2 separate regions of the Homo sapiens genome follow, and region 2 is linked to region 1. The links come from fine-mapping of genetic effects on plasma protein levels. Region 1 holds a variant in brackets. A gene starts in the other region. All regions are shown on their reverse strands.

Region 1 (11,535 bases):
GACCATAACACCCAGTGCTGGTGAAGATGCAGGGAAACATGCACTCCCCTACCAAGTGGCATTCTGTAAGGGGCATGGCCAATTTGGCAGAATTGATTCTAGACTCTGGAATCCTGCTTTTGAAGTACAAAAACCATATGATCATTTCGATAGATGCAGAGAGAGTATTTGACAAAATTCAACATATCTTTATGATAAAAATTTTCAACAAATTAAGCATAGATGGTATGTTGTACCTCAACACACTGAAGGCCCTATATAAAGGCTGAGGTCGGAGGCTCAGGCCTGTAATCCCAGCACTTTGGGAGGCTGAGGCAGGAGGATCACTTGAGCCCAGGAGTTTGAGACCAGCCTGGGCAACATGGTGAAAGCCCATCTCTCCAAAAAAACCAACACAAAAATGAGTTGGCATTGCAGCACGTGCACCTGTAGTCCTAACTACTTGGGAGCCTGAGGAAGTCAAGGCTGCAGTAAGCCATGATCAGCCATTGAACGCCAGCCCAGGCAACAGAATGACTCTGTCTCAAAAAATAAATAAATAAATAAATAAATAAATAAAATAAAGGCCCTATATGACAAGCACACAGTTAACATTGTACTTAATGGTGAAAAGTTGACAACTTTTCCTTTAAGGCCAGGGATGAGAAAAGGATGCCCACTCTGGTCACTTCTATTTAACACAGTACTGACAGTCCTAGCCAGAGCAATCAGGCTCTAGGAATCCCACTTTTAAGTATTCAAGAGAAATACTTGCTCCCTGCTACATATTTCCTGCTAAAACGTTTATAATGGGGAAAAACTAGAAACAACCTAAATGCCCACCAGCTGGAGACTAGTGAAAGAATCTGGCCCATCTATAGGCTGGAAGACTGCATCAGGGGGAAAGAGTGAGGAAGACCCACCCCACCACCTCTGGGAGAGCTCCAGGGCTATTCACTAAGCGAAAAAGCAAACGGCAGAACAAGACACCCTAGACAATCCCATTTACATGAACATACATAAAACCAAACTACTAATGTTTATGTGTACACAAACATTTTGTAAATGGTGGGCAAGAAAGGTCTGGCAGAAGCAAACTCATCCTGAAACAGTGGGTACCTCTGGGGAGGAATCAGAATTGGGATGTGGGGATGGTGGGGAAGTAACCAAGAAGCCTGTTACTGCTTATCTCTAGCAAGGATGGCTAAGAACACAGATTCTGGAATGTGGGTTCAAATCCCAGCACCAGCCACGCGCGGTGGCTCATGCCTGTAATCCCAGCACTCTGGGAGGCCGAGGCAGGTGGATTACTTGAGGTCAGGAGTTAGAGACCAGCCTGGCCAACGTGGTGAAACCCCATCTCTACTAAAAATACAAAAATTAGCCGGCTGTGGTGGCGGGCGCCTGTAGTCCCAGCTACTTGGGAGGCTGGGGCAGGAGAAATGCTTGAATCCAGGAGGTGGAGGTTGCAGTGAGCTGAGATGGTGCCACTGCACTCCAGCCTGGGTGATAGAGCAAGACCCCGTCTCAAAACAAAAAACAAAAAAACAAAAAAAAAACCAGCAACAACTTATTAGTTATGGGACCTTAAGTGACTTACATGATTACTCTCTACCTCAGTTTCTCCATCTGTAAGAGGGGAACCATGATCATGCCTACTTCATAGGCATATTATGAGCATGAATTGATAGCTGTAAAGCCCTAGAACGTAGAAAATGCTTCATAAAGACTGGCTGACATTGTTGTTATTTCCATGTTGCGGTGAGAGTATATTATTGGTGTCTAAAAAATAAACATAGGGCCGGGCACGGTGGCTCACGCCTGTAATCCCAGCACTTTGGGAGGCCGAGGCAGGCAGATCACGAGGTCAGGAGATCAAGACTATCCTGGCTAACACGGTGAAACCCCATCTCTAGTAAAAATACAAAAAAATTAGCGGGGGGTGGTGGCAGGCACCTGTAGTCCCAGCTACTGGGGAGGCTGAGGCAGGAGAATGGCATGAACCCGGGAGGCGGAGCTTGCAGTGAGCCGAGATCACGCCACTGGACTCCAGCCTGGGCAACAGAGCGAGACTCCGTCTCTAAATAAATAAATAAATAAATAAATACATAAATAAATGGGCCGGGGGCAGCTGCTCATACCTGTAATCCCAGCACTCTGGGAGGCTTAGGTGGGTGGATCACCTGAGGTCAGGAATTCGAAACCAGCCTGGCCAACATGGTGAAACCTCGCCTCTACTAAAAATACAAAAATTAGCTGGGTGTGGTGGTGTGTGCCTGTAATGCCAGCTACTCGGGAGGGTGAGGCAGGAGAATCACTTGAACCTGGGAGGCAGAGGTTGCAACGAGCTGAGATCATGCCACTGCATTCCAGCCTGGGTGACAGAGCGAGACTCTGTCCTGGAAAAAAAAAAAAAAAAAATCACACACACAAAAACAAAAACAAAAATAAATATAAAACAAAAAATAAAAAGGAATAAATTAACAAAAGTCACGGGGGTCCAGAGGGATTTCCTGCACTGACAGGGGACCCTCAGGACTAGCAGACCTTTGCCTGCCCATCTCAACTGGGGCATCCTTCTCCTCCCATGGCCAGAGGGCCTTTCCTTAGGCACAACATCACCAGAATGGCACTGAGACCCCCCACCCCTCTGCTGTCCACGGTGCAGAACAGTTGGGACCTCTGTGGGCACCATCCTTCCTTCCTCCTGACCCTCGCTGGGCCTGGGCCCCTGCTGGAGACCACATATCCATGTCGCTCTTCAAGATGGAGAAGAAATGCTCTCCCTACTCAGGCACAAAACTGGGCCCCAGATCCCTGATATCAGCACACCCTGAATGAACAGCAGTGCCACTCCAGTGACTCCCTCCCTGGGCAGGGGTAGTGGCTGCACAACACAAGCTACAGAGCCACAGGGGCCTGGGTACATTTGCTGCCTCCAATCACGCCCTCCTTCATCCTCTCTTCAGGTGTTACTGAGGGCCTACTGTGTGCCAGACACCAGGCTAGGCCCTGAGATACCACGGTGAACAGCACAGACGAACACTGCTCTCCCAGGGCTCACATTACAAAGGGGGACACGTATTGGCTGTGTGGCTCCTGATGCCTGACTCAACCTCTCTGAACCTGGATTTCCTCATCTGCCAACCAGGTGGCAGCATGGCATCCACCTTGTAAGGAACCCATGAAAGGGAATGCAAGGTGGAGATGCGAACCTACAAATGGGGTTCTCTCTGCCACACACCCCTCCACAGGCACCGTCTCTGCATGTGGCCATGTCCCGCTGGGCATGTCTGCAGGGCAGTGGCAACAAAGGGTGCCCCTGTCACATGAGGCCATGGTGGAACCCCCACAGCCGATCTCCACAAGAAACCCCAAAAAGCACAAGTAGGTGCCTCTGCCCTCGATGGAAGGGGGCCATGCAGAGTCGACAATGTTTTTTTTTTTTTTTGAGACAGGGTCTTGTTCTGTCACCCAGGCTGGAGTGCAGTGGCATAATCATGGCTCACCGCAGCCTAGACCTCCCAGGCTCAAGCTATCCTCATCTTGGCCTCCCAAAGTGCTAAGACTACAGGCACACACCACGACACCTGGTTAATTTTTGTATTTTTTGTAGAGATGGGGTCTCACTATGTTGCCTAGGCTGGTCTCAAACTCCTGGGCTCAAGCAGCCCTCCCACCTTGGCCTCCCAAAGTGCTGGGATTACAGGCATGAGCCACCGTGCCCTGCTACAGTCGACAGTTTTGTACATCACAGGGTCCTTGGGACCCGCACACAGTAGGTACTTTGCACACAGTAAGTAGTCACTAAAAGCTGTCAGGCAGATGGGAAGGGAGAGGGAGGGGCCACATCTGCCCTTGGCCACCATGTTCTTCCTGTCCCTGAAGGGGGGAGGGTCTAACCCCTGCATAAGGGCACCTGTTCTTGGTCAATCCTACTGTTCCCCACACCCAGCCTTGACACAGGTGAGACAGGCGCTGCCCTCGTGGCTTGGAGGATGCCCAGAGAGCTGTGATTCCAGACCCAGGCTCCTGCCCCACCTACACGATCTGCCGCTAGTCACGCCAGCTGCCTGTGGGTGTTGGCATGAGCCATTCCCTCTGCCCTGTCTGCTTCCAATTGCACATAAGAGAAGCCTCTTCTGAGCTCCCAACTGAACTTGACCTTCAGCACACTGGTCACACATTATCACTTGACAGGATGCTTTTATTAGTGACTATCTCTCCAACAGACTGAGTTCCATGAGTCATTCCCTGCTTCATCTCCAGCTCCTAGCATACAGCAGGAGCTCAATGAATGCCTCTTGAATGAATGAACATATGAATGCAAGAGATCAGTTGGATTTGCAAACTCTTGCTCTCCCGGCAGATGCGTGGCAACCAGCATGAACCAACCTCCCCCGCCCCCTGGGCCGTCCTACCTTCCGCACAGTCCTGTATGTCAGAGTCTTGAAGCCCAACTGCAGGGCCAAACCCTGGCAGGAGCCTTCCTCAAAACAGCTGCGCCCACTCCAGGTCCCTCACTGCCCAGGCAACGGCTGGGAACCCCCCTCATTGGGCCCCTTCCACCAGTCCTCCCATAAGAACAATGGCATTTACTGAGCGTCTGCTACACATCAGACATTTTTCTTTCTCTTTTTAGAGACAGGGTCTCACTCTGTCTTCCAGGCTGGAGTGCAGTGGCACAATCATAGCTCACTGCTGCCTCGAACTCCTGGGCTCAAGAGATCCTCCTGCCTCAGCCTCCAGAGTAGCTGTAACTACAGGCTCATGGCACCATGCCAAGATCATATCAGGCATTTTTCTAACTACTTTTACAAAATATTACCTCTTCCAAGGTTCCTAACAGCCCTAGGAGGTAGGTCCAACGATTACTTCCATTTTACAGATGGGGAAGCTGAAACAGAGCGGCCCCATAGCTAGTGATTATAGAGACCCCCACACAGAAGGGACCCCCAAAATGTCTGATCAGTGCCTAAATGCACACAAGAAGGGCTCACTTCCCAATGAATGCTTATTGGATGAATGAGTGAGTCCCAGAGGAGAGAATATAAAAGTCTCATTCAGCTCCAGCTGGAGTCAGGAGTCGGCAGTAGCTCTGTCCAGGTCCCAAACCCACCAATGATCAGGAAAACTGTCACAGGGCAAAAGGAAGAAAACAAAAATGAGAGGCTGGGCTCAGTGGCTCACACCTATAATCTCAATACCTCGGGAGGCCAAGGCGGGAGGATTGCTTGAGCCCCAGAGTTCGAGACCAAGCTGGGCAACATGATGAAACCCTATGTCTACTATAAATACAAAAAAATTAGCCTGGCATGGTGGCTGGGCCTGTAGTCCCAGCTACTCAGGAGGCTGAGGCGGGAAGACTGCTTGAGCCCAGGAGGTCGAGGCTGCAGTGAGCTGTGATCACACCACTGCACTCCAGCCTGAGTGACAGAAGCAGACCATATCTCTATAAGAAAAAAAGAACTGATGTCTGCAGTGTGCTTGGCATGGGGCTCATAAGTGGCTGCTGCTATTTTCTTACTATCACTGTTAGAAAAGAGCTCCAGCCTCGGAGTCAGGCTCGCCCGCCATGGGAAGCCACAGGGGGGCCTGCCTCATGGGCTGGGCTCGGGGCGTCATGGGGAGCTGGAACAAAAGATCTTCTCAGGGGAGAGGCGGCTGCTCAGGCTGCTCCGGGCAGGAAGTTGCCAGCCCAGAGCAGTCAGCTGTAGCCCAAGCTATGGAAGGGACTGTACCAGGGAGGTTTTTTGGCCAGGAGGGCAGCCAGGCCACAGGAAGGTGGATCCCTCCCTGACCCTGGCCCAGGCAGTGGCGTTTATTGAGTGCTTACTATGTGCCAGGCTCAGAGAAAAAGCAATTGATCAGATGGTGACAACCCTGGGATCAGGGGCTGACAAGCTGTGGACAGGAAGCAATGATGATCACGCCAGGGGGACCTGGGGCCCTCAGGCTTCGACTGTAGGGTATGAGTTGGGGGCAGGGTGTCTTTGGGACACTTCTATCCCAGCACAGAGCTTCGGGGGAGCCTGGTCAGCCAGAGAAATAAACCACCTTCCCCACAGAGGGGCCCTAGCACCCAGGAGACCCCCCTCACCTGCTCAGGCTTCCTTCTGGGGCAGGAACCTCCCAGCTATGGGGGTCTCCAGGGTTTCCCCAAATCCTGCAGCCAGGTGAGGGGCAGGATGATGTGCAGAAGGAATAACTCAGCCTGGTGCATCCTTGTCCCCCACCCCCAATTCCCTCCCTGCAGCAAATACATGAAGGCAGCTAGCTGCACGCCCACCAGCTGGGGCTGGGGGGTGTCTGCATCTCAGGACCCCAAGCTCAGAACACAACCGGGTCCACCAAAGGGCTATTGAGGGCCTCGAAGCAGCAGTGGTACCTGGTGCTCCCCAAGAAGCACAGCCAGCCCCAGGCACCCTGGAGCCACCAAGTCGGTGAGAAATCGCAGGACCTTGAATCGCTGGGAACCTGGCTGAGCTGTGGGGTCCCCTTAATCCATGCCCCGCTGAGATCAGGGCTTCTCAGCCTCTCCTCTATCTAATCACCCTGGATAATAGTATAATTCGGGAGGCTGAAATTTTCCTTTTAATGATCAGGCCCACATGCAGAGAAAGCCTTTATCCATGGTAGGAATTCCCCTGCTGAGGCTTGGGGAGGATTTTTTTTTTTTTTTCTTTCTTTGAGACAGGTCTGACTGTCACCCAGGCTGGAGTGTAGTGGCATGATCACAGCTCACTGCAACCATGACCTTGTGGGTTTAAGCAGTCCTTCCAAGTATCTGGGACCACAGCCATGTGCCACCATACCCAGTTTTTTTTTTTTTTTTTTGGTAGAGACAGGGTCTCACTATGCTGCCCAGGCTGGTTTCAAACTCCTGGGCTCAAGTGATCCTCCCACCTTGACCTTCCAAAGTGCTGGGATTACAAGTGTGAACCACTGCTCCCAGCCTGGGGAAGATTTCTTAAAGTGTGGTAAATGAAGTTAAATTGGGCCAGTCCAGAGCCTCCACTCTCCCCTGCCCCAGCTCACAGATATAGGCAGGAAGTCTCACACCTTCAGAGGGGACACTTCCTCCAGGGAGGCCTCCTGGTTGAATCTAGGCCACAAGGAACATTTCTATCTTCCCCATGCCTAGCACCAACTGTTCATAGAGTCCAGACCCTGTGGCCTAAGGAGGCCCAGAGAGTTGTGGGATTCTGACACACACTGCCTGGCAGGCGGCCTGCTGCCCTTTCACAGCATTCAAGTTGCCAGACGCAGAGATGCCCACGGGAAGCAGGGGGCGAAGGCAGGGTCCCTGGGGAGGCAGAGAGGTGGGTTCTACCCCAGGCCACGGGGCAGCTGGCTGGACACTGATGCACCCTTGCTGGGGTCACCTTGTGCCCCGGGGACATTTATCAGGCCAGCACAGTCTGCCAGAACAGGAAATGTCCTCTGGCTTCCTCTGCCCACACCGCCAGCCTGACATCCCAGCCACCGCCCCAGCTAGGTTTCAGGAGGTAGGGAAAGCCAAGAACCATCTCCCTGCGGAGAGGCAGCACCATCAGAATCCCGCACGCCCCCCATCCCAAGGCCGTGGCTTCTTCCTTTCACTGCCTCTGGGTTGAGGGCAGACAGGGGAGACCCTAGGAGGGCAGCCTGTGGGTGAACCTCCTCCCCACGTGCTACTTGGGGACATCAGGAGGGACATGCGTAAGCCCTCAATTACCTCGCCTCTCGCAGCATACACTGCCCTCTCTGGGCCTCTCCTCCTTGAGATGACACCAGTGTGTGAGCTCTGAAAGGGCAGATCCCATGTCAGAGGTCCCCTTGTGTGTCCACCTCCCTGATTGATCACATTCCCAGTCTCCCAGCTGGGGCCCCCCATTGGGCGCCTGTGAGTCAGCCCCTGTGAGGAGGGCATAGACTTCCTTCCTCCCAGGCCTCCCTGGGGACACATGTCCTGGGCAGCAGCCGGCTCCCCACTGGCCAGCCGGGGGGTAGCCACATCCGGGTGGGCCCCCAGGGGCTCCAGGCCTGGCTCACAAGGAAGCCTGTGGCCCGGCCCTGCTGGCCGACCCCTGACAGGGTGGCGTGGGAGGAAAAATCTTCTATCTAACTGCTCAGCTGCCGGGTTTCCGGCTGGGGCGGGGAGTGGGGGGGCACCAGGAGGACCTGTTCCCCTGGGGAAGTGTCCTCTGCCCCTGCTGGGAGGAAGGATGGCTAGTGGTGGCCAGCAGAACCCTGGAGCCCTGGTAGAGGGATGCTTGTCACCCCGGCAGCAGGGCCCCATTGAGCAGATGTCCAGTGGTGGCCTGGTCCTGCTGCCAGGCCTCAGGACCTGCTCAGTCTCCAAGGGATCTCAAGCCCCGGGAAGCTGGGGAGGTGGGGTGCAGGACTCCTGGGTCCAATAAGGCCTGACTCAGCAAGTGACCCCGGCTGAGTCACTTCCCCTGGGCAGCCTGCCCGCCTCAGTTTCCTTGGGAAGGGTGGGTAGTGAGGAATGGGGCCTTGCAGGGAATGAGCAGCTAGCACTGCACCTCTGGACTCGCCGAGGCAGGCGTCTCCGGTCTGCCAGACGGCAGCGGCTTCCTGCCCTGCCTCGTCAAAGATGCTGAACGCCCGCGGGCCCTTGGGGACCGTTTTCCCAGGAAACCTGGCAATTAAGTGCCAGCCCCTATTGGGCATGAACAGCAATGGCTTGCACTTATTGAGTGCCAATTGCATGCCGGGCACTGTGCATGCCTCCTTTTCTCAAAACCACCCTAACAGGGAGTTGGCAACCCCCCTATTTCATAGACAAAAAGACCTGTGGCTCAGAGAGGCTAAGGGACCAGCCCAAGATCACACAGCCAGAGCAAGTACAGCCAACACAGTTCCAGTCCTGACACTGTACTTCACACACCCAACCCTGGGGAGGCTGGAACTCTTGGCTTCCATCGGGCAGGCGAGGTCCAGATCAGAGAAGCCAGGTAACCTGCCTAGGACCTCACACCTGGAAGCTGGCAGAGCCCAGATTTGGCCCCAAAGTCCATACTGCTACCAGGGAGAAGTGGGAATTTAGCAGGAAAAGCCTCTTGTTTTATTAATAGCAATAATATCTACTATTGTTAATTGAGTGCCAGGCTCAGCGCTCAGTGCCTTATGTGCCATGTCACAGCAAGTGCACAGCTGTTAAAGCCTTTCACAGATGTTGTCTCAATTGCCTCAGAGAGCTTAAGTGATCAACCCAAGGATCCCCAGCAATGGGAGACCCTCATGAACACCAGCCCTCAGAAGGGTGTGGGGTCATGTAAACTGGGTCCCAAAGGTGTTTCCAGCAAAAGGAGCTGTATTGGCCCAGACTGTGGGACAGCTCCCTACTATGTCCCTGAGACCCCCTTCACTGACCCTCCCCACCTTGGCTGGGGAGGGCACCCGGTCTCCCCTCACCACAGACAGGTGGCACTGAGACTGGCAGCGAGGAGGTCCCTCCAAGTGCCTCCAGCTCTGCTCCACCTGGGATATGGAGAATGTCTGGGGGTGGCACAGCGGGAGCCAGAAATCCAAGGGCCCAGCAGTCCTGTGGGATCTGATTTGTACTCAAAAGTTCTATTTATCGGAGAAGGAGGATCAGGCCCAGGTTTGAGAGGCATGGGGGTGGGGGTGGGGGGATGAGGAAAGAAAGCCAGCAGAGCTAACACCCACAACAAAAAAGATCATTCCGGCCCCAAGGCTACTTCTTCTCTTCCTCCTGACCAAGCCACTCTGGACACTGTGAATTCACTCATTCATGGTTCCCATGACTCTAGGAAGTAGGTACTATTAGCACACCCATTTCACAGATGAGGAAACTGAGGTGGGGCAGTTAAGCAAGGCCTTATAGCTAAGGAAGTGCCCAGATCTTCAAAATTCTGCTCCCAAAGACCCAGGAAATTCCAGTGCTATGTATGCAAGAGATGCTCAAGGGAGACTACTGAAGGAACACCTCATAGCCAATAACAGTAACACTAATGAAGGCAATGATAAAATCACCACTACCACCACCACCACCTGCAACTGAACCTCTCTTTGCCAGGCAGCAGGTGCTCATTACACACTGGCTCATTAAATCTCCACTGCAAACCTGTTACTCCCCCATTTTACACAGAGGGAAACTGAGGGCAGAGTCACTTGCCCACGCCTTCAGCTGAACGAAGGCAATAGGAGTAGCAAAGCACAGTCTCCAGGACCCTCCTCACTATCCTCCTCCACTTCCTGCTGAGCCCCTGCAGACCCTGAGCCCCCAGCTGCTGATGCTCTGAGCCAGCCCCTTCCCAGCTGGCCGCTCTGTGGCCCACAGGGACTCACAAAAGTTCTAGGAATGCTCACCCTTTGGCTCAGAAGGATTTTCCCTCCCAGAGGGGGTAGTGGGAAAAGGCTCAGGAAAAGTGCACTAAAAACCCTTCCAACTTCCCCCAGTAGGCCCTGGCTCTCATCCTCCGAGCCCAGCCTGCCCAGGTGGCCTCTGACGGCTCTCCCTCCACGAGGGCAGGTCCCGAGGAGCCTCCAGAGCTGTTTCCACTCAGGCAGCCAGGTCAGTGATGGGAAACCCAGACACAACCTGCGCCTGCATCCCTGGAGACCCACAGGCCCACTGCCCTGGCAGGGGCCCTGAGGCCTGGCTGCTAGCCGGTGTTAGGGAACTGTCATCTCCCCGGCGAGGGGCTGCGGGTCAGATCTCGGTCCCTCCTGCCACCAAAGCTGGCCTTGCCGACATTGCCTTGCCGGGGCCTCTGCTCTGAACCCCCCACCAGATTTCACTTCCTCCCACTCAGCCCAGCCTGGCCGTGCCCCTCCCTGGAGGCCCCCAGCTGCAGGCAGTGACCTCCTCACCTACATCATTGTGGCTGGGAATGGGGAAGAGAAACAGGAGAATGAG[G/A]AAACTAAAGAAAAAAAGAAGCGGGACAGGCAGGCAGACCCTCCTCTCCAGTTCCTCAAATGCAGTCCCCCTCCCTCAAAACAAAGCTCCCCTGGCCGGAGGGAGGGAAGGGAGGGAAGGGGATTTCTGCACCAGGCATCAGAGACCTCTGAAATACCATCCCTACCGTGCGGATCTAGAAGACCAACACCCACTCCAGACGTTTTTTGGTCGGGGGATTCCCAGGGAACCCCAGGCAAGAGGTGTGAGAGGATCAATACCAGAAACCTGTCTCTGGGACGCCTAGCCCTGGTGAACCGCCCAATTCAGCAGCATGCGGGGGCCTGGCCCGGTCGACCTCGGCAGTGCAGGAACTGGGGAGAGGGGCTTCCTGAATCAGGGCGCTACCCTCTTAGCCACATGGCCCGGAATGGGGAGTGGGGAGGGGCCGGCGCATCCTCCCCCGCTGCCCCCACACCCAAGGGCTCATCTGTGCTCACAGCCTCAGTTTGACTACTTTCACTTTCAGGGTAGCAATGGGTGACCCCTGACCGCTCCTCCCCAGGCACAAGTTGAGGGGAGGGCCGCCCCCAACCGGCGAGGCTACCGTAGGGTGGGCTGGGGGCGTCAGCGATGCCCTCTCCCCCATCCCACGGCCTCAGTTACCCCAACGCTCTCCCTAACACGTG
Region 2 (16,310 bases), not on the chromosome of region 1:
AGGAGGGAGGGTGGGGTAGATCTCACTTTGGATACCATTAATATCCCCACTTTGGTTTCTCTTTAAGACAGCTCGGACCTACTGAATGGGAACGTCTCCAGAAGTGGGGCTGGGCGGGCTTATTTCCACAAAGCTCCCTCAGTTGGGAATTCGACTCGCCTTGGAATACTTTCCAGTGTCCCTTCTGGAGAGCACCTTCATCCTGTAAGAGGCAGGGCTTTGCTCAGCACCCCTCAAGCAGTCTCCACTCCATGCTCACTGAACTGAGGACTAAGCTGCCTCTATGGAAGGTGACCCAACAGAGGGCTGAGGAACTCGGCAGGAATGCAGACTGCCGGACAGCCCGCGTTGAAGCTTCAGACAGGCTCATCGTCATGAGCCGGCTCCCTGGGCCCTTTCCCCTTGCCAGCTCTGACATTAGACATTTGCACACACCTGATTTGGATCTCCTGAAACCAGAACTCGGACAAGGCAGTGGAGTTTGGAAGTTGAGAGAGGGATCTGGAGTTGGAAGCCCCTGGTGTGAATTTCCCGTCTGCCTCCCACCAGCTGTGGGAAAGTCACTTTAGTTCTTCGTACCTCAGTTTCCCCCATAGGAGGAGAGTGTGCACCTCTTATGCTTAATGTGGGGATTAGGACTCATGAAATGGTGTCTGGCAGTCATTACCTCTAAGAGCAGCAAGTCTAGAAGTTAGCATGTCCCAGAACCAAACAAAACTCCCACTAAACAAAGTGCATCTTGAATAAAATCCACTGAATTTGATAGACACAGGCCTTAAACAAATTTCTGTTAAAAGAGCTCATCTCCTATTTTAATAATTTGCCCCTGAAAATCCAGTCTTTTATGTTACTGTAATGGAATAGCGTCTGTTCTCCTACTCTCTCTCTTGTCTTCAGGAGCATTCTGTTTTGAGTGAATGCGGGACAAACAGGCAAATTAAGTGGTATTTATATTTTTCTCAGGAACAAATCTCCAACTACTAATAGTGGTGTTCAAACAAGTAACATCAAAGAATGAGAACACCAATGGAGGGAGAAAAGTGATGCTTTGGTGGTGCTCTGAGGGTTTAATTTAAAATAAAGAGAAGAGTCTCTTCGGCAGAGACAGGGCTGACACCTGACTAACAGGACCGGCAGTCAGCAGTCTCCGGAGCAGGCCCGCGTCTCCCGGGCACCCCAGGCAGGCAGGACGGGCCTGCAGGCTCAGCAGAGAAGAAACCTTTCCACCAGTTCCTTCAATGAAAAGCGGAATCCTTTATTATTGGAATCACACTCTACCTTTTCCCTCTTTCCTATATTTGGCAATATTGTAACAATTCCAGATGTCCTCAAAGAGCTCTTAGCATTGGCAAGTAACATCTCCGGAGACTTTAACAATCCTTCTTCCGTCTAGTGATCCCCAAATCTGGCTGCCCAACAGATCACATGAAGAGCATTAAAAAAAATCCCAAGTCCAGGTCTTGCCCCATGCCAATTAAATCAGAATGTCTGGGGGCGGGAGCCAGACACTGGTTTTTGTTTTGATTTTTTTTTTTTTAATCCCAGGTAATTCCAATGTGCAGCAAGGTCTGGGAACCACTGTTCTATGCCTTGCCCCTCCCCCAACGACCGCGCTGGGCACCAAACCCCAACTCCCCAAGCCAATGACATCAACAGCAAGTACGGGCCTGGCTCTTGGAACCCGCGCAGCTCAAGGTTGGAATTGTGCAATTAAACCTTCCAAGGCATGTTTCCCCTGTCAAGTGGGTTTATGGTCGGTAGTCACGAAGCCAGACTCGCTCATGTTCTGTCTGCACACTTGGCACACTTGAACCAGGGACAGCAATCCGGTGTGTGTGTGTGTGTGTGTGTGTGTGTGTGTGTAAGACAGGTTTAATATTTTGGTTGGCTCAAATTCTTCAAACAGCAAAAAGAGACATCCAAGAAAGAAAGTCTCCGGGTTTTGAGGAGAAGTTTGCTGTGAGCCCCATTTTGAAACACCATGGTGTTGGCCAGGATGAGCTCTGCTTCCGGGGCTTCCGCTCAAGAGTCCCGCGATCCCCCCCTGCAGTGGCCGGACAGCCGCGTCCCGCTCCACCGCGAAGCCCAGGCGCGACCGAAGGGCTGCAGGTGGAGCAGACCCGGACGTCTCCGCGAGGCGGCCATCGAAGGAGAGCCTGGGGCTTTCGGCGCGGGCGCCCAGGAGGGAGCTGGGGTCCCCGGGAGGTGGGGGGCACTCTTGGATAGGCAAGACGAGGGCGCACCGGGCGAGGCGAGCGGCCGGGGTCTGCGCCCAAGGGGCGGGTCGGACCCCACCTGCCTTTTGCCAACGAGGAAACTAACCGCCGCCAGCACCACCCCTCCCCGGGAGCCGCAGGTGGTGGTAGACGAGTTCTCCCAGCTCCCAGGTCGAGGCTGCGACTCCACACTGGGGAACGAGGATCGCGGGGACCTGGAGAGGGGCCGGGGCCAGGCTGGCGGGCGCCGGCTTCAGTTTGAGACCTGCGCGGAGGGCGGAGGCGGGGAGGTCCTCTCAGAAAGCCGCCTGTCCCGCGGGGTCCGAGGGGAGGCTGTATTTTTGGGTTCCTTCCTCAGCTTCCCTAAACAGTGCAGTCTCGGCGGGTGGGCAGCGCCCGCCCCTCGGGTGCGCGCCAGGACCCCGTCGCGCCCTGGGAAGACAGCGCGGGGCGCACGTGCGGGACCCCGGCCCCAGGCGCCCACCAGCACCCGGCTTTCGCCCACTGACGCCGATCCTGCGCAGCTGGGCGGGGAAAGTGAGGGAAGAAAGTTGGGAGCGGTTCGGGGCGCCGGAGGTCCCGGCGGCCGTTCCCCGCCTGGCCTGCAGCCCGGTGTCCCACGCGTCTCCTCCTCCGCCCGCCCCAGACTCTCCCGGCCGAAGAACGAAACGTCCCGTTCCTCCCGCGGTCCCGGTCGGCGGCGCAGCTGATCTCAAGGAAACAGGAAAGGACGGGCGGGGGCGCGGGCGCCGAGCCGGTGCGCCGGTGCGCGGTTGGGCGGGCTGCGGGGTCCGGGGCGCGATCCGGGGGCGGCGCGGGAGCCGGCGAGACACGCCCTTACCTTTCTTTTCCTCCAGAGCCCGACTCGCCGGGCAGAGCGCAGCCAGCAGCGCCAGGAGCGCTGCCCCGGCCGTCCCGGAGGGTCGCATCGCTGCTCCCCGAAGAGCTCGCTCCGGCTCTCCCGATCAATACTGGACGGAGTCAGGGGGCCGTGCGCGGTGGTTGTGGCGTTGGCGGCGAGGCGGGGACTCGGGCGGACGCCGACGAGGTGGCCTGTCGTCCGGTCTGGGCGGCGGCGGCCGCCGGGGCTAGCTCGGGACTCCGGCCGCCTCGGCCGCGTCGGGCGCTCACACCGTGCGGGGGGCGGAGGCTGCTGCGGCCGCGCTGCGCCGGGGGCTGCCCGGACGTCTAGCTCGCGCGGGCCGAGGCGCGGGGAGGCAGGGCGGGAGGAGGAGGGACCAGGCGGCGGAGGAGGGATCGGGAGGAGCAGAGGAGGAGGAGAATGCGAGGAGGAGGGAGGAGAACCAGCAGCGGGGACCCAAGGCCAGCGGCCGCCGGAGGCGGTGGACAGCGGTGGCCCCCGCGGGACCTAGTCTCCGGCGGGAGTGGGGCGGCGCATGGGAGGGGAGCGGGTGCCCTGAGGAGTTAATTTCCGAGAGGGGCGTTCCCAGCACTGCCCCTCTGGACCCGGTCCCCGCGGACTTGCAGGCCCAGCCTATGTCCAGGTCGAGCCAAATCTGTGCCAGGGTCCCCTTCCCCCTTTCCCTTCTTTTGTTTTACAAAGCAAACTTGTACCAGCTTTAGACAGACTGGCCGAGCCTTAGAGCCAGCGTCGGATAATGGCACCGACGGGGAAACTGCTCCTTTATTCGGGTCCCCACCTCCCCTGCAGCACTACGGGACCCTCTCGGGGATCAGAGGCTGGCCTGGCAGCTGAGGAGGTCGCCGTGCCCGCGCGGCAGGGGTGCCAGGCGTCCGAGGTGGTGCTCTAAAGTCCGAGGGTCCTTCAGATCTTGTCAAGCACCCTCGAAATCATCTGAAATGAGGGCACCCAACTCCGGGTGCAGAGACAGGCCTCCTTAATGTTTATTGCAACCAGCCATGGGTACTTTGAAGCCAATGTGTGAAGCACATTACTTCGCAAAAGTGAAGCTCTTGGAATAAAGGCTTGACACAAACAGCCGTGGAGGTGCTTTTAGAGAGGCTAAGTGTCCCACTGCCCCTGTAGCTCCCGCAGGAGAAATGCCAGGGAAACTCGCGGAAGCTTTGGCCAAAAGAAACTGAGCTTTTTTGGGCTGCAGGAACTTGAGCTATATTCCTTTGGCAAGTCCACCCCATCCCCACTGTTCCTTCTCCTGCAGTAAAAATGTCCTCTAGGTCCATGTTACAGCCAGACCCCTCCTCTCTTCACGAGATTCACTAGGACCTTCAGGCCTGGTTCAACAACCCTGATCTCTCGGCTCTGTCAAAAATCACAATCCTGAAGTAAGTGAAGCTACAGACCTGCCCTTTGCTGTCTCTGAAGGGGAGCAACCTTACATCTTTCCTCCTCATCCAGCAAAATGTTTGTGCCTGGGTCTCGCACCCTGCAGCCTGAACGGTGGGGTTTTTCACCAGGGCAAGCGCAGACAGACACAGGTCTGCTCACTGCCCGCACAACCTGGAACTTCCCTGTGAATTAGGAGAAGTAATCTGTTCCTTTGTTTTAACAAATCAGTACAGCCACTGTGCGTTGAAGTCATGCCCTGAATGCAGAGGCCATGAAGGCTCTGCAGGCATGTGTGTGCTTCCTGCACACCTGGGCTGAGAGCAGTCCGTAGAAACACAGAAAACAAAACTAGAGAAAGGCAAATGGGAAGCACAACAGTGGAACATAAAATGAAGACAGGAGTGAGTCTTACAATAAAAGACCTGAATACAATAAAGTCCTGTGCATTCACTTAACAAGGGCTGCAAATTTGGTTTTAAACTATATTTTCTGTCAAGGGAATGTGACCTGTGTGTACAAGTCACAACACAAATCAATTTAAGCTACAACTGATTTGTAAGACTGTACAGGAATTTCTTTGAGTGCCCAAAAAGACAGCATGTAAGAACATCAGTTCTCACTACGTTAGGACTATATGAGACAACAGCCTTCATAGTACGGCTTGTATATTCTTCAATGTGATCTGATAGCATCACAAGAAACAGAGCTTTTTGTAAAGAATTACTAGACACACACATAGCACAATACTGGGATGGATTCCAGGGAACAGAGAAGAATGGGTTTGCTGAACATCTTCATGGGACATCTATGTAAAGTTTGAGTTTCTCCTTTGAGCTTTTGATACAAAAGCTGACATTCACGTTGATTTTGTAGTCCTTGGCTAGTACCTGGAGTGTGCTGATAACTGTGTTACTTGGTAAGTAAAAAACTGTATGGCCGAGCAGGCACTAATGAAGTCCTCTTAAGAGAGATAAGTAGCCTGGCATAGTTAGGGCCCTGCACAGTTAGGGCTCTAGCTCACAGCCTCTGTGGAGGGTGGTCCTAGACCATGGCCCGGACAGAGGCTGGGTGTGTGTGCCACCACCACAGGAATGACAATAGTGGCCCAGTTGCTGTGTTAAGCATTGGTCAGACTAAGCTTATCTGATAACCTGTGAGCTGGTTAATACTTGTATCTGCCTTTTATAGCAATGTGATGCTGTGGCCGGGAGAAGTGACCAGGATACCAAGGTATACTTGCTAGTATGAGAGGCCAACTTTGAATCCAAGGCAGAGCCGTGTTTTACCCCTCTTGTCCAGCAACGCTTCAAAACCTGAGACAAATGGTGATGTCAGGACCTAAAATTCTATTTCATAATGTCTTGGAAATTTGTTAGGGTGAGTAATACCAAAATTTCTGCTTGGCCAAAAAAATTATAGATAAAGCCTTCATGTATGCTATATTAGCAAGTATGTACTAAGACTCTAGTATTTCCCTTAATAAATCTCATAAGCGTCTGTCAATTTTAATAACACAGATGGTTCCATCCCTTTGCCAGCTGTACATGAGAAACTTTTTTCCTCTGATGAGTGGTTATCCTCTTAGAAGAAGTTTCTGAGTATGTTGAATAAGAGTTTAGTCTTGTCTATAAGGAATGTGGCTCTGAATTTCCTAAAACCAAATGCTCTGTGAAAGGGGAGGAGAAACACGTTATTTGGCAGGGTGAAGATCTGAGGTCTTCAAATATTCTAAGTTCCATCTTAGGCAAAAGGCATTTGACCACCTGTTTTCTCTGGCTTAGAGGTCAAAGTAAAGATTGATTAGGAAAAAAAAACATAGTGGCAGATTTTAGACTTTCAAAAATATGTTTTATAAGTTATTGGAGCTAAGTAAAAGTAGAATAAGCTATGTCAGAGTGGAAAGGGCTTTTTTGAGAAAGATTTTTGTGCAAGAACAATAAGTACTAATGGAGGTTGTGAATTAAGGACTGACACAGGTTCCTTCCAACCCTAAAGTTCCTTAAGAAAATGCACTTCTAAAATAGGTTTTCACTTAAACATGTGTTCACTTGACAGCTCTTCTAAGGATATATGTTAAGGAGATACAAGAATCTGGTAACAGCTTTGCCTCTAGGGAGGAGAACTAGGTAGCTCGGGGTCAGGGGTTTAGAGGGAGACTTGTTTTTCAATTTGTCCTTCTGTACCATTGGGATTTTGTACCAGGAGCATGCCTCACCTATTTCTGCAAGGTAAGTGTGGCCCCTGCTGAGGTTCAGGGACACTCCTGGGGGCAGGCTTTCATGGTTTCTGAGACTGTTTATTCCTTCTCCTTGAAGGAAGTCATTTGCCTTGAGCTCTGAGTTGAGACCCATCTCTTGCAGAATGTGGAAGAAGCAGCTTTTTCAAGGGGTAATGTGCTGACAGAAAACTGCTGAAGCATTTCTCCTTTGTCATTAGTATGCTTCATCATCTCTAGAGTTGAGGGTTACATGTCACTATAGGAGGCACTATTGGCGCTCCATTCTAGCAACAAGTAGAAAGCTGAGCAAACCGAAAAATTAACACCTCTTCTTAGCTCTTTCAGAGAATTGAGGTCATTGGGCAAACCACTGCCCCCCAAATTGGAGAGACAGGCAAACACAGAAGCACAACCTCCAGAGGAAGAAACCAGCAGACAGAAACCTCCAAGGACCCAGTGCCGGCTGGGAAAGTTTGCCCTGTAATTGAGAAATTGCGGGAGGCTCAGTGTGGGCAGTTCTGCAAATTAAGAACTCCAGCAGAGCCCAGTCATGGTGCAGGGTAGTATGAGACACTTGAGAGTGTTACCTCCTGGAGCTCTGCTAGGTCCTTACCACGAATATTAGGGGGAAAATCTCATTATGCTTCTGGCAGTGGAAGGAGAAGAGGAACCATTTTGAAATAGGTTGGAACATTCTATTATTAATAGAAGGTCTGCCCTCAGGAGAAATTATTTCACCAGAGGCCTAACCTGGTGTTTTATCAGAGGGTGACCTACCCAGAGCAAGGGAAATATACAACTCCACCCCCCTCCAACAGTTCTGTACCATCTAAGGGGCTGGGGAAGCTGAGAAGCAAGCATGAAGTTCACAGTCCAGGGACACAGGCTCACTGGAAGACTGTGACATGCGGCAGGACTGTGCAACACTCCCTCTCCCCACAGCTTGTCACTACGTCACTAGAAGCCTCTTTACTACAGCTCCTCTTACCCAGTATATCATTTCCACATTGCAAGGCACACTAAAAGGCAAAGACGCAGTTTGAAGAGACTGCACAAGCATCAGAACCAGAATGAGACATGACACGAACGTTACAACTAACTGCTGTGGTTTGAATGTGTCCCCGAAAAGTCCATATATTGGAAACTTAACCCGCTGTCCTCATGAATGAATTCACATGGCTCTCATGGCGGTGGGTTAATTCTTGTGGGAGTGGCTATGTTATAAGAGTAAGCTCTCTTCACACGTGATGCCCTCTCCCATGTTATGATGAAGCAAGAAGACACTCATCAGATGCTAGCACCAAGCTCTTGGACTCCCCAGCCTCTAAATCAGCCTAAATCAGCTTCTTTTGTTTATAAATCACCCAGTTTGTGGCATTCTGTTATAACCACAGTAATTGGACTAAGACATTATCACATCGGAGTATTAATTATAAAAAAACTATGATTAATAGGCTAGGAGTTTTAATGGAAAAAATAGGCAACATGTAAGATCAGATGGATAATGTAAGCAGAGCCATGGAATTTTTCTTTTTTTTGAGACAGGGTCTGGCTCTGTTGCCCAATCCAGAGTGCAGTGGCGTGACCTTGGCTCACTGCAACCTCAACTTCCCAGGCTCAGGTGATCCTCCCACCTTAGCCTCCTGAGTAGCTCTGACTACAGGCATGCATCACCATACCTGGCTAATGTTTTGTAGAGATAGAGTTTCACTATGTTGCCCAGGCTAGTCTTGAATTCCTGAGAGATGAAAGTTTTAAGAAAGAATTTAAAAATTCTAGAGATCAAAAACACTGTAAAAGAAATGTAGAATACTTTTGAAGTACACATTAGTGGGCTGAACATGCTTGAGGAAAGAATTTCTGAGATTGAAGATACGTAAACAGAAACTGCCAAAACTGAAAAACAGAAAGAAAAACGACTAACAAAAAGAACAAAACAAAACTTTCAAGAACTGTGAGATAATTACATGTAATGGGAATACTGTAAGTCAAAGAAAGAGAAAAAGGAGCAGAAGCAATATTTAAAGCAATAATACCAAAAATTCCTCCAAATTAATGTCAGACAACAAATCACAGATTCTGGAAGTTCAGAGAACATCAGGAAGATATATGCCAAGAAAACCCAAACAAACAAATGATACCTAGGCATAACATATTCACACTTCAGAAAATCAAAGGTTAACGAAAAATTCTTAAATGAAGCCAAAGGGAAAAAACACCTTACCTGTAGAGGAGCCATAAAGAAAATACCTATAGAGAATATTAGAATTACATCCAACGTATCCTCAGAAACCATGCAAGCAAGAAGAGAATGGAGTGATCTGGTGTATGTCTTCATCTTTTTGGGCTTCTGTAACAAAATAACATAAAATGATTTACTTGTAAACAACAGAAATTTATTTCCCATAGTTCTGGAGGCTGGGAAATTCAAGATCAAGGTATTTGCAGATTTGATGTCTAATAAGGGCCCACTTCTTCATAGATGGCCATAATTTCACAGTGCCCTCACATGGCAGAAGGACCAAGGCAGCTCTCTGTGGTCTCTTTTATAGCACTAACCCCATTTGTAAGGCCTCCACCCTCATGACATAATCCCCTCCCAAAAACACTCTCCCCTGATAACATCATTTTGGGAGCTTACATTTCATCATATACATTTTGAGGAGACATAAACATTCAGTCCATTGCAGTATATTTAGACCACTAACATTTAAGGTAATTATTGACATAGTTGGATTAATAGCTACCATATTTATTACTATTTTCTATTTGCTGCCCTTGCTCTTCTTTTCTTCCTTTCTTTTTATTTATTTGCTTGTTTATTTTAGAGGCAGGGTCTAACTGTCTTCTAGGCAGGAGTGAAGTGACATGATCACAGCCCACTGCAGCCTCAAATTTCTAGGCTCCGGTGATCTTCTCATCTCAGCCTCCTGAGTAGCTGGGACTACAGGCACAGTCCTAGCTAATGCCTGGACTTTTTAAAATTATGTTTGTATAGATAGTGCCTTGCTATGTTGCTCAGGCTGGTCTCAAACTCCTGGCTTGAAGTGATCCTCTCCCCTTGGCCTCCCAAAATGTTGGGAGAAAAAAATCTAGGGCAACTGATTTTAAAAAGTTAAAGACTAAAATAATTGCTATGCTAAAAAGAGGAAATCGAATTATACAAAATGCTGTGTAAAATCCACAGAGGCAGAAAAAGTGTGGAAAACAAAAATAGAAAAAATGAGCAAGAGTGTGGTGGCTCACGCCTATAATCCCAGCAAGAAAATCAGCAAAACCAAAAAGTGATTCTTCAAAAAATCAATAAAATTTATAAGCCTCTCACCAGGCTAAGAAACAAAGAGAGAATACACAAATTATGAATATCAGAAATGAAAGAAGGAACATCACTACTGATCTCATGAACATTGAAAGGATAATAAATGAATATTATGAACAGCTATACCCACGAATTTAACAACCTACATGAAATGAACCAATTCCTTGAAATAGAATGTACCAAAAGTCATACAAGAAGAAATTGCCAATCAATATAGGCCTATATCCACTATAGAAATTGAATAAATAATTAATAACCTTCCAAAACAGAAAGCACCAAGCCCAGATGAGATCAGTGCTGATTTTCGTCAAACATTTAAGAAAGAAATTACATCCATTCTCTACAATCTCTTCCAGAAACTAGAAGTAGAGGGAAGACTCCATAATTAATTTTGTGAAGCCAGAATTACCTTAATAGCAAAACCAGACAGAGATATTACAAGAAAGGAAAGAAAACTGTAGACCGATATCTTTTATGAACATAGATGTAAAAATTCTCAAGAAAATATTACAAAATCAAATGCAACAAAGTGTAACAAAGTTATACATGATGACCAACTCCGATTTATTCCAGATATGCAAGACTGGTTCAACATTTGAAAACTCAATTAATGTAGTTCATCACATCAACAGATCATATCAATAGATAAAGAAAAATTACATGATCATATCAATAGATACAGAAGAAAACATTAGGCAAAATCCTACACCTATTCATGATAAAAATTCTCAGCAAACTAAGAATAGAGAAGGATATCCTCAACTTAATAAAGAACAGCTACAAAAACCTATAGCTAAAATCAGGAACAAAGCAAGGATGTTTCCTTTCACCAATGCTTTTCAACATTGTATTAGAAGTCCTAGCTAATGCAATAACACACAATAAATAAATAAAATGAATACTGATTGGGAGGGAAGAAATAAATCGTGTTTGTTCACTGATAATGTAATTGTCTCTTAGAAAATCCAAAAGAAACAATAAAAAAGCTCCTGGAACTAATAAGCAGTTATAGCAAGTGAGCAGGATACAACGTTAACATACAAAAGCCAATCACTTTCCTATATACCAGCAAAGAACTAAGGGAATTTGAAATTAAAAACACATTACCATTTACATTAACACCCTGAAATGGAATACTGAGGTATGAATATAAGAAAATATGTATAAGATCTATAAGAAAAAAACAAAAAAACTCTGGTGAAAGATATCAAATAACTAAATAAATGGATCAATAGTTTGTGTTCATGGTCAGAAAGACTCCATAATGTCAAAATGTCACTTATTCCCAACTTGATTTATAGATTAATCCCAGTCAAAGTTCGAGCAAGTTATTTTGTAAATATTGACTAATTGATTCTATGGGCAAGCAAAAGACCCACAATAGCCAACTCAATATTGGAGAACAAAATTGGAGGATCAACACTACCTGACTTCAAGACATATACAACTACAGTAGTCTAGACTATGTGGTATTGGTGAAAGAATAGACAAATATATCAATGGACCAGAGAGATCAGAAACTGACGCACATAAATTTAGTCAATTGATCTTTGACAAAAAAGAAACACAATACAATAGAGCAAGTATAGTCTTTTCAACAAATATTGCTGGAACAAATGGACATCCACATGCAAAAAATGAATGTAGATACAAACCTTACACACTTCATAAAAATTAACTCAAAACTGATCATACATATAAATGTAAAATGCAAAACTATAAAACACCTAGGAGATAACGTAGGAGAAAACCTAGATGACCTTAGGTATGACAATGACTTTTTAAGTACAAAACCAAAGGCACAATCCATGAAATAAATAATTTATAAGCTGGAGTTTATTAAAATTAAAAACTTCTGCTCTGAGAAGGACAATGCCAGGAGAAGAAGACAAGCCATATACTGGAGAAAAATTTGCAAAAGAAATATGTGATAAAGGATTGTTATCCAAAATATGCAAAGAACTAAACTCTTAAAAGTTAATAATAAGAGGATAAATAACCTGATTTAAAAATGGGCCAAAGCCCTACACAAACACCTCATCAGAGGATACACTGATGGCAAGTAAGCATATAAAAAGATGTTCAACATCATATGTCATTAGGAAATTGCAAATTAAAACAACAGTGAGATACCACTACACATCTGTTACAATGGAAAAAATTCAGATCAGTGACAACACCAAATTCTGATGAGGATGTGGAACAATAGGAAGTCTCATTCATTGCTGATGGGAAGGCACAATGGTACAGCCACTTAGGAATGCAGCTTAGCAGTTTCCTATAAAAGTGTACATACTCTTACCATATGATCCAATGATTTCTCTCCTTGATACTTACCCAAATGAGTTGAACACTGTTGTCCACATAAATCTGCTCATGAATATTTATAACAGCTTTATTCATAACTTCCCTAACTTAGAATCAACTAAGATGTCTTCATGTGGATGAGTGGATAAATAAACCATGGTACATGTGGACAATGGATTGTTATTCTGTGCTAAAAAGAAATATGCTATCAAGCCATGAACTGACATGGAGGACACTTATGTGCATGTTGCTAAGTGAAAGAAGCCAATCTGAAAAGGCTACATACTTTATGATTCCTGCTGCAGTCATGTGCCACGTAATGACATTTCAGTCAACAATGGCACCCATATACAATAGTGGTTTCATAAGATTATAATACCATAATTTTACTGTACTTTTTCTATGTTTAAATACACAAATATTTACCACTATGTTATAATTGCCTACAGTATTCAGTACAGTAACATGTCAGATAGGTCTGTAGCCTAGGAAAAATAGACTATACCATATAACTTAGATGTATAGTAGGCTATATCATTTTGGCTTGTGTAAGTTCACTCTGTTATGACCATACAATGACAAATTCACCTAATGACACACATCTCAGATCATATTTTCATTGTTAAGTGATGCATGACTATATATGACATTCTGGAAAAGGCAAATCTATGGAGACGGTAAGGTGATCAGTGGCTGCCAGTGGTTGGCGGGAAGGAGAGATGAATAGGCAGAACATAGAGGATTTTTAGGGCTGATAAACTATTCTATACCATATTTCAGTGGTGGATACCTGTCATTTTACATTTGTAAAAACCCATTGAATGTACAACACCAAGAGGGAACCCTAACATAAACTATGGACTTTGGGTGATAATGATGTGTCAATGTTGGTAATCAGTCGTAAAAAGACACCACTTTTGGGGGGATGCTATGTATGTGTGTGCACAGGGGTATACAAAAACTCTCTATATTTTTAGCACAACTTTTTTGTGAACCTAAAACTGCTCTAAAAATAAAGTTTATGAATTAACAACAACAATAAAAAAACATGACTGCATGTTTGAATGCTAGTTTCAGCATCGTTGAGATGTTTGTTAATTACTTTGCAGAGGGATCTTATAGAAGGTTTCTGTATCCTTCACAATGCTTCCCCCCTAGTGACAATTTTACAAATGAGCTTAAATAATTTTGTTCAAGGTATTGTAGCTTGTTTCAGGGACAGATGTTACTAGAAACACTAGCCTGGAGATTGTAACTGGTGGTCTGAAAACCAAGTTCAGGGTACAGATGTAGTTTTGTGAAGTCCATTCAATGTTCCTTTTAGTTTAATTAATGGCAACACTTAAAAATCAGAAGGTTTTACATTTAAACTGTAGACTTTGTGTTTCTCTCGGAAAATGGGAATTGTTGGCTAACTGTGTTTGCTTTCATGGAAGATGGCAGGTGGCTAAATGGTAACTGTCCTCTTTAGGAGGTACATTTGATCTCCAGTTCACGCTGGAGCTGCCATCCTGATTCTCTTGTTCATGGGTCTGTGAGGTCACTGTAGGCATTAGAGTTTGTAACTCATCCCCCGTGGTTAAATCATGATAGTGCCACTTTATAGGTATGCTTCCTATCTCTGCTTTTCCCCTCTCCTTATCTTTCTTTCTTCATTCGTCTCTCTCTCTCATCTCATATATGTGTACATATGTTTTTGTTAACAGGTTTTTGTCCAGATGCCATAATACATTATATATCATGATAGACATCTCTTTAAATTGCCTATTTCAAATATGGAGTAATATTCAAGCACAAATGTTTATCACAGCTCATGATTATCCTTATAGGCAGACTTTCTAAAAACCAGTTAAACATTTCTGGAAGCAAATTCAGTTCTGTTGCAGAACAGAGAAAAAAGGATCTATCCATTAATTTATGGTACATGTGGAATGACCATGTTCCATGAGTTGAACATGAGTTGGCTTTGCAGGTAATCACGGGTAGGAGATGGAGGTTTAGGAAGGTGGCTGGAGTCAACTTCACTGCCAATCCTACAAAGCAGCAAGTTTTGTCTGGCTAATTTGTCTATAAACTGTAATAAGTGAGAATGAGTGCTTATTAGGACACAACTAAAGAGACATTTTGAAGCATTTTAGCTATGTCTGATTTCATTATTTTAATTATTGTAATTATGTCTCATCTTATGTAATAAAGGTCCTGGAGCAAAGACCTATTCTCAAGCTTATATTCTTCCAAGGAGAAACTCAAGGCAGGTCACCAACTGAGAAAATTGTGTCACTTTATTTATTTTTTTTCACAAGGAATATAAACAGAGGGAATGAAGCTTCCACATGTACTATAGAAGGAAATAAATCGCTTTTGAGAGGAGGTCTCCAGAAGCTAGATTTCAAGTGGCATTTTTAGATGGCAGAAAATCTGGAGGGTCTGCAAGGTCAAAAATATGTAGGCTAAAAATGACAGGGCTAGAGAAATCCAAAGCAAATTGGTGTTCTATTTCTGCAATTGAATGGAAAATTAGAGTTTCTAGGGCCCCTCCAAAAAATCAGCAGAAATTCTTGCAGTTGTTACTTTTAAGGGACTGAGCTTACAAAGCCTCAGTCATTGAAACAAACCTGGGAGGGACCTCACAGATAGTTCTTCGCCATTTTTTAGATGACAAGGTAAGCACCTTGTCCAAATTACTTGTTTCACAAAGAGACAAAGGATTAATAAATAATATTTTATTAATAAAATAAAACACATAGGAGTTTTCAGGGTTGTTGGCTATTTGATTAAAATTCAGAGTTGGAGTAAATGGCATTTACTCAACACTCATTTATCAAGAGCCAGAGGTGGCAGGATATATGGGGTCACTCACTAGTTCCTGCCTTTGCAGAACTTACAGTCAATCTACAAAAGGTCACCTAAGCTAACCAGGGATGTGTGTGTGTGTGTGTGTGTGTGTGTATGTGTAAGACGAAAAGTCTTTCTACTCTTCCATAATCAATAATTTCACTGGTTTCTCAACACCATAAAAAATAGGATGTTTTGCTATCCACAGTTAAAATAAATGTCAAACACAACTAGTTAGTGGTGACACAAGCATTGGAATCCTCAGTGCCTGCATTTAGGGCAATTGCTGTGTCACTGGAGATTAGGGAGTTGTTCTGACATTGTAGCATTTAGTTTTGTCACCTGCTAAGATCATTTGGCAGGTGTGCGCTGCCTTTCCTTCTTAGTAATCTCACCGAGGCCAGTTAATTGTAGCCTAAAGGAGAAGCGTAGACTGCTTCTGTGATCAGAAGCATCTGTTTTTTCTCCCCATTGGTGGATGGTTCTTGGCGGTCCTTGGAAGTCCGCCATAGGCTTGCATAACCTGCTGATGGTAGGACTCCTGTCACTCTGGGGCAGAGGCTCCCTGAACCAGGCCACGCCTCCCCAGGTCACTTCCTCCTCCCTCTTGTTGGCCAGCGACCTCCTCCTCAGCCTGGGAACAGAGGGAGGGGAGCAGCCCCTTGGGCCGGACTCGTAGGTGGCATTCTAACGATGGGTGTGTAGAGAGAGAAACACCCCCTCATTAGGCTCACGGGAGGTGCAGGTTGTTTGTCACTCATCATATCACAGCACACCTTAATGTATACAAGAAGGTAGTCAACCCCTTGTTAAATATTTAAACGGTATATTTTATATATGCTTAAGATTAAATTACTTTGTTTAATATATAAACATACATTATATTATCATACATTATATATTTCTATAATATGTTCGTTGTACACACACTCATTCTATGTATTTGTGGAGAGGAGAGCGAGATAACATGGAGTATCCAAATGAACAGGGACCCAAAAATGCCAGGGCCATTTGCCATTAACTGTGGCTTTGAGCACATGATATTTTTTCAGTCTCTCCAAGCAACAGCCTTGTGTGATCTTCTGTGGACTGGCGTACGTGTTTGTACACAGGATTGCTCTGGCTTGAAATAATGCAGGGACAGCA

Alleles and levels. Positions count from the first base shown, and alleles are read on the strand shown. Strength reflects both the effect of a copy and how common the allele is.
As copies of A replace G in region 1, the plasma level of the protein whose gene starts at base 3,406 in region 2 goes down (weak association).

Evidence for each region. PIP is the posterior inclusion probability: the model's chance that the variant is causal. Protein levels are from antibody-based Olink assays in UK Biobank. Linkage for the fine-mapping came from a reference panel and not from the study's own genotypes, which makes the PIPs less certain.
Region 2: EGFR starts here. The variant in region 1 is fine-mapped to the plasma level of the EGFR protein (UK Biobank, PIP 0.95).

The regions. Positions count from the first base shown.
Region 1 is chr12:111,406,485-111,418,019 of GRCh38, reverse strand. All of the region lies in intron 1 of SH2B3 (SH2B adaptor protein 3), which reads right to left. Among named protein-coding and RNA genes, the nearest start is that of SH2B3, 6.3 kb to the right of the region's middle. RefSeq lists enhancers at 1-353, 3,974-4,821 and a silencer at 7,914-8,063. The variant G/A (reference allele first, on the strand shown) is at 10,868.
Region 2 is chr7:55,006,113-55,022,422 of GRCh38, reverse strand. EGFR (epidermal growth factor receptor) reads right to left here and starts at 3,406. Exons shown (of 28, transcript NM_005228.5): 1 at 3,058-3,406. The coding sequence starts at 3,145. It overlaps LOC105375284 (a long non-coding RNA gene), which reads left to right and starts at 3,501. Exons shown (of 4, transcript XR_007060329.1): 1 at 3,501-5,862. RefSeq lists an enhancer at 1,732-2,406.